3 separate regions of the Homo sapiens genome follow, and regions 2 and 3 are each linked to region 1. Evidence: fine-mapped expression QTL. A gene starts in region 1. Each other region holds a variant in brackets. All regions are shown on one strand. Distances are between the middles of the regions. Region 1 holds the start of TMEM8B (transmembrane protein 8B). Region 2 has its middle 3.1 kb from the start of OR13J1. Region 3 overlaps TMEM8B (transmembrane protein 8B).

Evidence for each region. PIP is the estimated chance that this variant, and not a neighbour inherited with it, causes the effect.
Region 2: its variant is the best candidate, but not a certain one, in a credible set for the expression of TMEM8B in monocytes (TOPMed, PIP 0.80).
Region 3: its variant is the best candidate, but not a certain one, in a credible set for the expression of TMEM8B in nasal epithelium (TOPMed, PIP 0.62).

What each region holds. Positions count from the first base shown.
Region 1 is chr9:35,826,683-35,830,921 of GRCh38, forward strand. It overlaps TMEM8B (transmembrane protein 8B), which reads left to right and starts at 2,546. Exons shown (of 13, transcript NM_001042590.4): 1 at 2,546-3,273. The coding sequence starts at 2,766. It overlaps FAM221B (family with sequence similarity 221 member B), which reads right to left and starts at 2,050. Exons shown (of 7, transcript NM_001012446.4): 1 at 1,781-2,050. RefSeq lists a silencer at 2,403-2,852 and an enhancer at 3,138-3,638.
Region 2 is chr9:35,871,354-35,875,592 of GRCh38, forward strand. It overlaps the pseudogene NDUFA5P4. Among named protein-coding and RNA genes, the nearest start is that of OR13J1, 3.1 kb to the left of the region's middle. The variant TCTA/T (reference allele first, on the strand shown) is at 1,641.
Region 3 is chr9:35,852,886-35,857,124 of GRCh38, forward strand. TMEM8B (transmembrane protein 8B) reads left to right here. Exons shown (of 13, transcript NM_001042590.4): 11 at 1-88; 12 at 256-372; 13 at 620-4,239. The coding sequence ends at 955. Among named protein-coding and RNA genes, the nearest start is that of OR13J1, 15 kb to the right of the region's middle. The variant G/T (reference allele first, on the strand shown) is at 2,336.

The DNA.
Region 1 (4,239 bases):
TCATTCATGTTCAAAGCTTTAACTACTTCCAGTTGTGTACCAATGACTCCTAAATTCACATTTCTAGCTCAGACCTTTTTCAACCTCTGTACTTCACACTCATACCCACCTGCCTGCTGGCCTTCTCTTCTCTTCTCTTTTTGTGATGGAGTCTCGCTCTGTTGCCCAGACTGGAGTGCAGTGGCGCAATCTCGGTTCACTGCAACCTCCGCCTCCCGGGTTCAAGTGATTCTCCTGCCTCAGCCTCCCAAGTAGCTGGAATTACAGGCGTGTGCCACCATGCCCGGCTAAGTTTTATATTTTTAGTAGAGACGGGGTTTCACCATGTTGGTCAGGCTGGTCTTGAACTCCTGACCTCAGGTGATCTGCCCTGCTTGGCCTCCCAAAGTGCTGAGATTACAGGAGTGAGCCACCGTGCTTGGCCCCTGCTGGTCATTTCTAACTGAGTGTTTCCACAGACAGCAAAACTGAACTTTGGGAATTATCCTAGTCTTTTCCTTTTCCCTTAGACTCCATCTTCAAATAGGCACCAATAACTCTATTTCCTATCTTCTAAATATTCCCCAAATGCATTCTCTCCTCTCCCTTCCAATTTTATTCAAGTTCTCATCATCTTCAGCCTTTGTGTAATAACTTTGCCCCTCTACTTCCATCCACAGCATTTTAATCCATTCACCCATTCTTTCATGGATTTATGTAACTTATACTTTTACAATGAGCCTAATCTGATGCTTTTACTGACCCGCTGTGCTAAGCTCTAGATTGAGTTGAGTCTAGGAGAGAGACCGATTAACCAACAATGGCAATACAAATAAATTGATGTTGTTCTGGGGTGAGTCTAGGATACGGTGGGGAGGGGGATATACCTAATTTATCCTGCAAGGATGTAGTCCTCCTTCCTGACCCAATCAGGATCTTTCTAAAGTGCAAGCCCAACAACTGGCACTTTGTGGCTTAAAAACATTCCATGACTCAGTCTAAAGGATTAAGTCCAAATTTCTTGGCCCTGGCATTCAAGGCCTGTCATCATTTTCAACACAGCCTGAGGATTCCTGCCTTAACTTTCCGTGCTCCCTACTTTACCCCCATGTTCCAGAGACGCTAGATATATCACTCCTTAAATGCATCAGAGCCTTTTTGAAGGGGATGTTTGGGAAGGGAATTAGGGGCAGAGGTAGGATTACAGGGAGGAAGATGACCAGAGTCAGCTAGAGAGAAAAGGGGCCTAAGAGTGGAGAACCAGAAGATGGGAGGTGAGGAAGGGGAAAGAGAAGGGGAGGAGGAAATTGGGTGGAGGAGGAGAGTAAGGATGAAAAGTACAGAATGTGGGCCAGGCATGGTGGCTCATGCCAGTAATCCCAGAATTTGGGAGGCCAAGGCGGGTGGATCACTTGAGGTCAGGAGTTCGAGACCAGCCTGGCCAACATGGTGAAACCCAGTCTCTACTAAAAATACAAAAATTAGCTGGGCATGGTGGCAGGCGCCTGTAGTCCCAGCTACTGGGGAGGCTGAAGCAAGCAAATCACTTGAACCTGGGAGGCGGAGGTTGCAGTGAGCCCAGATCGCACCACTGCACTCCAGCCTGGGGGACAGAGCGAGACTCTGTCTCAAACAACAACAACAACAACAACAACAACAACAACAACAACAACTACTACTACTACTACTACTACTACTACTACTACTACTACTACTACAACAATGTGAAGGGACTGAGGGGTGGGAGAAAGACAGATGTCTTTGAGGGAAGAGGGCAAGGGCCGTTGGAGAAACCACCTACCCTCTGGGCTTTGGCTTGGTTGTTACAAGTCCTTAGGTCAAGACCTTGACTTAGGATGGCAGGGGGAGGTGTTGATCCTCAGGGAGGAAAGGCTCTTGGTTGTGGATGTGCCTCAGCTGCAGGTGCTGAGTGTTGAAATGCCTTGCCTGAAAGTCTGCTATCTGGGAAGGGGACTTGGATATCTGCAGAACTTCGCAAAGGAGCTCTGGCATGACCTGGGGAAGTGGGTAGGGACAAGGGGTCTAGGGCCAATGAGGGAGGGTCTTGACTGAAGCCTCCGGAACCCGGGCCAGGAGAGTAGGCGCCGGTCACCAGGGCAACCGGAACGCCTAGTAGTCTCCGTGGCAACGGCGGTCTGGTCACCTCCCCGGTGGGTAAGGTCTCCTGAGGGGCTTGCATTGGGCCTCGAGGGGGCGAGCCCAGAGGGTTTACTTCTGAAAAGTGGGGTGTGTGTTGCGGGATCTCTGTGAGCGAGTGTTTGGGTAGGATCTGCGGAGATCTGTGCGTACGTCCGGGGGAGTCTGGGATTGTGAGGATAGGGTTCCTTTGAGACATCTGTGGGGCGGTCGTTGGGGGCTGTGAGGATCTGAGGGGACCTCGGGCTCTGTGCTTGGGGTGAGAAAGGCAGGGTCTCGGGTAGCTGAGGCGGGGGCGGAGTCTGTGTGTCCTCGAAGCCCAGCAGGACTAAGTTGGGGACCAATAGAGTAGGGCGGGGGCGGGCTTTACTGACAGGGACCAATCGAGCCGGCCGGGGGGCGGGGCGTCACGCCGACGTCAAGTCGAGGCCGCCGCCGCGGGGCCTGGTTATCGCCGGTTCAGCGCAGCCCGGAGTCGCCCAGGCCTGAACTCCTACCCAGGTCCCCGGCCCCCGCCCCGGGCCCGCGAGGACACCGGAGGCCACCCCCCGGGGGTGGGGAGCGGAGCCGCGGGCCAGCTCTGCGAGCGCCCCGCGCTGGCCTGTCCGGCCCCGCCCCCGCCCCGGGCCATGGCCCAGCCCTTGTCCCGGCCCCTCGTCCTATCCCAATCCCCGCCTTGGCCCCCAGCCCCGCCCTCGCCCCGCTTCCCACATCGGCCCCAGCCCCTGCCTGGGTCCCCATCCAGGACCCCCTTCCAGTCTCTGCCCCTGGCCTGGCCCCCATCCCGGCCTCGGCCCTCGTTCCACCCCCTGTCACAAATCCCAGCCCAGGCCCTGTCCCAGCCCCATTCCCAGTGTTTGCTTAAGGCCCTGGCTCAACCCCGTCCCTTGCTGCAGTCCCCATCACAGCCCTTCCTTCCATCCCACTCCCTGCCCTTGTTCAAGCCCCAGTGTCCAGCCCAGCCCAACCCATTATCTCAGCCTTTGCCCTCATCTCTGTGTTTACCCAAGTCTCTCCCTCTAGTCCCCCCTATCTCTCATACTCTGCCCCTCTCCCAGCCTAGACTCAAGTCTGGGTTTCAGCTGCCGCCAGCCCTATTGCTGCTGTTGCTGTTCTCTGTCCTTGGCCCAGGGGCTGGTGAGTGCAGAAGCAGGGAAGATTGAGGCAGGAATGGGGTTCCGGCAGGGAGGGGTGGGCTGGAGAGATTCAGGAGAGGTGGGACCTGGGGAACTAGATCATTGGGGAGCAAGTGGGAGAAATAGAGAGTAGAGAGGTCTTACACAACAGGGATTGGCAGGGTCAAAAGAGTGGTAATTAATTGGGTTTGAGGCTCAGCAGGTGGCTTACAGTTTCTAGCACAGAGACTCCAAGATTTTTTCTGGTGTCTGTCCTGACCCCACTTTGACTCTTGCTTTTCCAGGGAAATGTTGTGGGCTTTGCTCCTGCTCACAAAGTTTGATGGGGGAGAGACAGTCCCACACCAGAAGCCCCTAGTGTAGTGTGGGAATATATAGCCCAAACCTTTGAGATATTGGGCATGCATTCAAACGGCATGAAGAAGAGTTTTAAAGATAATATGTAGCAAATAGATGAATATGGATTAGTTGCCATTATAATGAGTTTTCTTCTTGTAATGATTCTTGTTCCAAAGAAGATTGATTTGCCTAGGAATAATTCCTGATACTTTTAGAGCAGGGCTGAAACTCGGAGGCTATTTTACAGATGGGGAAACTGAGGCTCAGGGAGGGAGCAATTTGTCCAAAGTCAGAGAGCTTGTGAATGGCAGTGTGCTGGGGCTAGAAAAAAGGTTTCCTAATTCCTATTTCATACTAGTGTGTTTTTTTTTATCCACTGCAATGTATACTTAATAGAAAAATAGACCCAAGTGGGGAAAGGCTCAAAGCATAACCTCCCTTCTCCCCGGTCTGCCCACAAGGGTGCTTTATCCACAAACTGTTCCTTATTTGCCAGGCGTCAGCCAAGGGCCACCCTCCGGTGGGGAAGTGACTTGGACAGAAGAGAGAGAGGTCCAATTTTTTAATGGTTGGAATGTGGGAGGAGGAGGGGGTGTCCTGGTCTAGGGGATGTGCCATGAAGATGGCT
Region 2 (4,239 bases), 45 kb after region 1:
CCAAACCCCTATGTTCTGTGGGCCAGAGCGAGGGCTGCTTTGACTTCATGAACTCCTAGGGTATTAGCATGGAACATGACCAGAGGCCAACTTGTTGGATCTCCCATTGTATAGATGGGGATGCTGAGGTCACACAACAGGTCTCTGGTGAGGTGAAGCTAGAATCCAGCCCTCCCAACAGTGTGACCCCTATACCATGCTCAGAGCAGGTGTATGCTTCTATTAGGTTTCAAACAATGCTTGTTCTTTTACCATTCTAGATGGATATCAGTGCCCCAGGTGCTGCCACAATCCTCTCACCAGCAAAAGAGCATGAGTCACCTCTCCTTAGTGTTCCAGGGTATCTGGCACGGTGTCATTAATCCCATGGGACACGATGCCAAATCCTGGGCCTGGGTGGAGCACAGTTCCTCTCAGTGCCTTCCTTGCAGGAGACCATTTCCGTCTTTTATTCCACCCTCACTTACTCATCCCAGAACCTAGAAGTAACTGAGGACCTGCTACATGTCAGGTGGTGCCAGATGTGAGGGAGCACTGATGACAGGTGTGCTCCCAGGCTGCTGAGTGCAAACCCTTCCTAGGCAGAGAGGACCCCCAAGTCTTCCATACCCAGCCTCACCGTCCCCCCACTCTTCCGTACCCAGCCTCACCCACCCCTCCCACTCTCCCATACCCATCCTTGTCCTCCCCCACCCTCCCATACCCAGCCTCCCCCTCCCCTGACTCTTCCATACCCAGCCTCACCCACCCTTCCCACTCTCCCATACCCAGACTCACCCTCCCCCCACTCTCCCATACCCAGCCTCACCCACCCTTCCCACTCTCCCATACCCAGCCTCACCCTTCCCTCACTCTTCCATACCCAGCCTCACCCACCCTTCCCACTCTCCCACTTTTCCAAAAGTAACTATTGTTATTAGTTTTGTGTATATCTATCCAGATACTTTTCTGGCCATTTGCATATGTATATCTATACATGGAAATAGGTCTTGTGACTTTTTAGTATGCTTTTTTGTTGCAGCTTTATTGAAGGATGGTTGATGTACAACTATATTTAAATCATATAATTTGATTAGTTTTAATGTATACAGTCATGAAACCATGACCACAATCAAGATAATGAACTTATCTAATATACCCACAATTTTTCTCATGCCCCTTGGTAATCCATTCCTTTCTTCCCCAACCAGGCAGCCACTGATTTGCTCTCTGTAACTGTAGATTACTTTCATTTTCTAGCATTTTACATAAAGGGAATTATGCAGAATGTACTCTTTTTAAAATCTGGCTTCTTTCACTCAGCGTGATTATTTTGAGAGTCATCCATGTTGTGTGAATCAATGGTTAGTTCTTTTTAAAAATAGCATCTTTATTGAGCTATAATTCAAACACCATGCAGCCGCCCATTTAAATTCACCCATTTAAAATGTACAATTCAAATACAAAACTATTGCATTGTACACTTTAAATGGGTGAGTTTAAAGTGTACAACGGGTGAATTTAAAGTGTACAATGCAATAGTTTTGAGTATCACCACAGTTGATTTTAGAACATGTTTATCACTTCCAAAGGAAGCCCATACCCTTTAGCCATCACTCCCCTTTTCCCCTCAACCTCCTCCAGTCTTAGGAAACCATTAA[TCTA/T]CTTTTTGTCTCTTTTGAGCTGCCTATTCTGGACATTTTACATAAATGAAATTATAAAATATGTTTCCCTTTGTGACTGGTTTCTCTTACTTAGCTTAATGTTTTCAAGGTTCATCTATATTGTAGCATGTATCAGGACTTACTTTCTTTTTATTGCTAATTAATATTCAGTTGTATGGATATACCACATTTTATGTGCCCATTCATCAGTTGATAGACATTTGGGTTGATTCCACTTTTTGACTGTTACGAATAGTGCTGCTATGAACATTTGCATACAAGTTTTTGTGTGGATGTATATTTTCATTTTTCTTGGATATTTTCTTAGGAGTGGAGTTTCTAGGTCATATAGAAACTCTATGTGTATATTTTTGGGGAACTGCCAGTTTCCAAAATGGAAAGTATCATTTTACTTTCCCATTTTACATTTCCCCAATATGTGAGGGTTTCAATTTCTCCACATCCTCACCAACAATTGTTATTATCTGCTTTTTAAATTATAGCCATCTTGGTTGGGTGTGGTGGCTCACGCCTGTAATCCCAGCACTTTGGGAGGCCGAGGTGGGCAGATCACTTGAGACCAGGAGTTCGAGACCAGCCCGGGCAACATGGTGAAACCTCGTCTCTACAAAAAATACAAAAATTAGCCGGGCATGGTGGCATGTGCCTGTAGTCTCCGCTACTTGGGAGATTGAGGCAGGAGAATAGCTTGAGCCCAGAAGGTTGAGGGCTGCTGTGAGCCATGTTCATACCACCCTACTCCAGCCTGGGTGACAGAGTGAGACCCTGTCTCAAAAAAAAAATTTATATTTATATATAACCATCATAGTAAGAGTGAAGTGGTATCTAATTGTGATTTTGATTTGCATTTCTCTAATGGCTAATGACATTGAACATATTTTCAAGTGCTCATTGGGTATTTGTATATCTTCTTTGGAGAAAAAAATAGGCTCTTTAGCCTATTTTAATTTTAATTTTTTTTCTTTGAGATGGGGTTTCGCTCTGATACCCAGGCTGGGGTGCAGTAGTGTGACCTGGGCTCACTGCAACTTCTGCCTTTTGGGCTCAAGTGATCCTCCCACCTCAGCCTCCCGAGTAGCTGGGATCACAAGCACACACCATCATACCCAGGTAATTTTTGTGTATTTTTGGTAGAGATGGGGTTTCACCATGTTGGCTAGGCTGGTCTCAAACTTCTGATCTCAAATGATCCAACTGCCTCGGCCTCCCAAAGTGCTAGGATTACAGGTGTGAGCCACTGCACCTGGCCTAATTATGTATTTACATTTTACTTTACATACGTAAGATCACAGCCAAGGAGGTTAACTATAATTTCAAATTTTATTACCAGCCACTTGTGCTATTTTATCACATTTGAAAATATTCACTCTTACTATATTTACTTTAAACAGTGATCTATAAATTTGTTTAGACAATAATAATTAAGGACCTTTTCTTCTTCAGAATGATAAAAAAATTAATGATGTATTGAAGATACTACTAAAGAAACTTTACTTTTGGAGTATGGCCTCTGCATTGAAGATCTGTAGGATTTTTTAAAATTAATTTTCAAGTCTTTCCATGACCTCTCTGTTCTAAGAAATATCATCTTTGTAATAATTTGTGTGAATACTTTACAAATCAAAAATTGATTCACAATACTGTACTACCATAATCACTAATTTTAAGTCTCTTAAACATTTTCTATATTACTTTTCTTGATTATAAAATGTCAATAATATGGGCATGCTCTTAATATAACAGAATATTTAATTATATTATTTTTCCCATCAACCCACCAGTCATTTATTAATTACATTGGCCATTTCCATTGATTGGCAGGAGGCTCTTCCATGAACATCTCCTATCATTTCCACTGTATCATTTTTCTTGCCAGACTTAGTTCATTTTCAGCCTGAAGAATCACCTCTTTTATTTGAACACCTTGAAGTTGGTCTTCTAATTTTTTAACATCTGGTTCTGCTTTAACCATAGCCAATTTCTCATCTGCAATCTGTTCTGTATACTTTCTATGTGCTGCTTTTTAAGGGGTTTGCTTAAGAACATCAAGGATCTTTGTGTACAATATTCTTAGCCTCTTACATTTTAGCAGACTGATTTTAGTTGCTTGTCTTGTGTGGACTCTTGCATACAGCCAATCCCATGAGGCCAGTGGTCTTCTTCAGCACACCTGCCATGACAGCGCCAATGAGCCAGTCGGATCTTCTTTAATTTCTTTCAACAATATTTTGTAATTTTTAGAGTATACATTTTTTCCAAGAATATAATTATATACATATTGTTTTATATGATTTCTTTGAAAAATAGGAGAAGAAATAAGAAATATGCACTTAAAACTGCCTTTTATAATTATATAATTACCTTTATCAGTGCTCTTTGTTCTATCATGTGGATTTGAATTTCCGTCTGTATTTGCTTGCTTTCAGCCTAGAGGATTTCTTTTAGTATTTCTTGTAAAGTGGGTCTGCTAGCAATGAATTCTCTTAGTTTTTGTTTATGTAGGTATGTCTTTATTTTGCCTTGGTTTTTGAAAGACAGTTTTTCTGTTTTTAATATTTTTGGTTGGCAGGCTTTT
Region 3 (4,239 bases), 26 kb after region 1:
GCTGCAGTTCTGTGATTTCCTGGGCTCCTTAATGTCCGTGTGGGTCACTGTCATTGCCATGGCTCGTTTACAGCCCGTGGTCAAGCAGGTCAGTCCAGAGTGGGCCCTGGGGAACAACCATGGCCAAGTCTCCTTGAAATCCACTCCTGACCTCTCCCTGGGGGCATTTCCAAGTGCCTCTCATGATTCTGACCCAGGCCCTGGAGTGCTGTCTGTCACCTGGCCCTAGCCCAGCCCTTGAGTCTCTTTCTCTAGGTGCTGTATTTGCTGGGAGCTATGCTGCTGTCCATGGCTCTGCAGCTTGACCGACATGGACTCTGGAACCTGCTTGGACCCAGTCTCTTCGCCCTGGGGATCTTGGCCACAGCCTGGGTAAGGGTGGGGAGGGATGTGGGGGGAGGGTCCCAGCAGGACTTGGGTGCTGGGCCCCAGGTATCTGGTCCCCAGTTTAAGGTGGGCTTGGCTCTGTCGTCATCACCTGCTGCTGGCAGTGTCCGCTCCAGTCTTGGCAGGTGTCTTTAGGTCACAACCAGGATACAGAGGAAACCTGAGAGTGACCAGCTCTGGCTTGGGTTCCAGGGCTTGGCATTCCTGAGCCCCACTTCTCTGTCTCCCCCAGACAGTACGCAGCGTCCGCCGCCGGCACTGCTACCCACCCACGTGGCGCCGCTGGCTTTTCTACTTGTGCCCTGGCAGCCTTATTGCAGGCAGTGCCGTCCTGCTTTATGCTTTTGTGGAGACCCGGGACAACTACTTCTACATTCACAGCATTTGGCATATGCTCATTGCGGGCAGTGTGGGCTTCCTGCTGCCCCCTCGTGCCAAGACTGACCACGGGGTCCCATCTGGAGCCCGGGCCCGGGGCTGTGGTTACCAGCTATGCATCAACGAGCAGGAGGAGCTGGGCCTCGTGGGCCCAGGAGGGGCCACTGTCAGCAGCATCTGTGCCAGCTGAGAGGGGCTTTGGGCCTGGCCCTGAGGGGATATGAATGCTTCCTAGAGTTCTTTCTGGGGGTGTGGAGCCCTCTTAGAAGGAGACAGGCTGTATTTCTTGAGGACATGGAGTCTTTCTCAAGGACACAAAACTCTTCCAGGGACCTGGAGCCCTTCCCAGGACATGGAGAACTTCCTGAGGGCCTGGAGTCCCCCTGCATCATGGAGTCCTTCTTAAGGACTGGAGCCTATGCAGGCACAGAGTCCCTCAGGACCAAGGAGTCCCTCCTGCAGGTGTGGAGCCTTTCCTGGGATGCAGAGCCTTCCCAAGACATGGATTCCTTCCCAGGGAGACAAAGCCCTGTCAGGAGCACAGCATCTTTCCAGAGGAGGTGGAGTCTATCTTGGGGAAACCAAATTTCCAGATTTTCCCAGAGGCTCAGCAACTCTGGCCTCAGGCTTCCTTCCCAGAGGCAGCGTCTGGGCTGTGCTGTGCTGTGGAGGAGGGATTGCAGGATGGATGGAGCTGGGACTGGGGCTGTCTGGGTGGCTGGTATCCTCGTTTGATACAGGTGGAGTCTGTGTGTCTCCAGTGATTGATTGGTTCAGAATGGTTCTGTGATGCCTTTTTTCCCCCTGGGGTCAGGGGTGTGGGGAAGTGGGGAAAGAGGGCCCCTCAGGGAATCAGCAGGGCTGATGGGAGCTACTGCCGGAGGCTTTTGTCACACCCTGTACACAGTCTGATCCCGCTCATCTGGGCCCTGCATTCATTTCTAAACAGTTTCTAATGCCTATTCCCCAATTCCTATTGAGCCCGATTTGCAGTATCTGAGGGGTGTGTGTGTGTGTGTGTGTGTTTATGTATGTATACGTATGCTGAGATGATTTAAATCAGTGAGACAGACTTTCCTTATGATGCCCACACCCAACACAGAAGGAAGCCGAGGTCCCAGGAAATTGGAATAGCAGGTACACGTCTCAGGTGTGCAAGAAATATCACAAGAATGTAACTTCTGTTTTGAGCCCCCATTTTTCCTGAGTGCCAGAAAAGATCATTTGTCCATTTGGGATTCCTTCTCTTTCCATGAGGGTCATAGCTGAGTTCTGAGGGTCTTACATAATGCCAAGAAGTTGGGAGAGCATTCTCACTGATCACCAGTGTCCATACTTCATCCATCCCCGGGATTTCCATCATTCCATCTGGTCCCCAGTCAGAGGTCCAGACAGTTCATCTGGGATGCAGAGAGATTTCTTGTTCCCATTTGCATTACTCTCTCAGTCCTAAGGTTCTCTCTGCCACTTCTGGGCCATATGTGGAGACCCGTAAAGTTGTCTAAGGCCTTGGCTATGCAGACACACCTTGAAGCTGTTTCTGCTCTGGGTTTTGACAGACAAGGCATGA[G/T]TTGCTGCATCTGTTAAAACTGCAAATCTATCTTGGCCTGGGGTGTGGAGCTCAGGGACTCTTCCTTTTGGGACCCTCTGTGTCAGTATTCTCACTACATCCTCTCCTCCTCTCTCTTCTTTCCCCCTTTCGTTAATATTGGAGGTGAGGAAGCCTTACTTAATGTTTTCTCCTGAATCTTTTTTTTTTTGAGACGGAGTTTTGCTCTTGTTGCCCAGGCTGGAATGCAATGGTGCGATCTCAGCTCACTGCAACCTCTGCCTCCCGGGTTCAAGTGATTCTCCTGTCTCAGCCTCCCGAGTAGCTGGGATTAGAGGTGTGCACCACCAAGCCCAGCTAATTTTTGTATTTTTAGTAGAGATGGGGTTTCTCCATGTTGGTCAGGCTGCTCTCAAACTCCCGGCCTCAGGTGATCCACCCGCCTCGGCCTCCCAAAGTGCTGGGATTACAGTTGTGAGCCACCGCGCCTGGCCTCTCCTGAATCTTTTATCTATGCCTTAAGCCTTTTCTGTTCCCTTCAGGACCTAGGCTTTTGAAACCCAAAAGCCAGGAAAACATGCCTTTGTTATCTGCTTTCTGCAATCACGTCTCTTCCATGGGGCACTGAGCAGAGAATGGTGTGGCCAAGTGAGTAGTGAGAAGCAGTGAGGAGGTGTGAGCTAGGTGTCTGTTCCCATTTTAGAAAATACTGTTCCTACATCAGAAATACCACATTAAGACGTATAGAGCCAGGTCACTGGGATGCTTGAACCCAAATAGCTGGGATTCTGGACAGAGTCAGCAGAGTACAGAAGGCTCTGAAGTGGGAGACGGAGCTGGGGTGCATCCCTCCCAGTGAGGAGGGGTCATGAGGGGCGTCTGGGAAGAGGGACATTTGAACTAGGATTAGCTGAGTTGCCATGATGCTAAGATAATGGGAGAGTGTTCTTTGTGGTCACCAGTGTCCACATGGCATCCCTTCCCTGAGATTTTCATCACTCCCTGTGGTCTTCAGTCAGTAAAGCTCTTAGAACACTTGTATAGTGCCTAGTCTGGTATGTGATGTGGTCCAATATATGTTAGCTTAAGGTCACCACGTGTTTGGACATGGAGAGGGAACAGCAAGGGGGAATGCAGAGGCAGGAAAGACTGATATTTACTCCGGGCACTGAATAGTTCAGTGTGCCTGGGCCAGTGCATGTGCGCATGCTTTTGTGTGTGGAGTGGGGTGGTGGAGGTAAGCAGCCAATGATATGATTAGATAGATAAGTGGAGGTTGGGTCTTTATTCTATGGGAAATGAGGAGCCATTGGAGAGATTAAGCAGGAGAGGAACATCAGATTGGGGTTTTGATGGCTGGGGCAGAGGATGGACTTTGGGAGACCTTGGAGGACAAAGTGCAGTGACCACAGCTATTGGAACATTTGAAAGAGAAATGGTGAAGCCTTCTTAAAGCAATATCGGTGGAAAGGAGGGGACCAATTTAAGAGCTGTTAGGAGTGAACTCTTTAGGACTTGGTGACTGATTGGGTGTGTGGGGTGGTGAGGTATGAGAGAGCCTAGGATGATGGTGATATTCTGATTTGGGGATGGTGGTGCCATTCCCTGAGATGGTGACACCACTTTGGGTGGGGGGAAGATGAGCTCCACTTTGGACAGTTTGAGGTGCATGTGGGATTCCCGGAGGGAAGGGGGCCAGCAATATGACAGTGCTGGACGTAGCCGCTGAACCAGGCCTGTCTCCAGGCTCCCAAAATGGGAATCCTTGGTTGTCTCCTGACTTGTCTCAGTGGGGGAGATCCCAAGATTCAAACAGCCCTTCCTTGCCTTGAATACAGGGCTGTGGCTGGCAGATATTGCTGTACCCTTGCATGTATCTGTACATACGACTGGACTGAGACCCCTGAGCACTTGCAGCTGCCTGG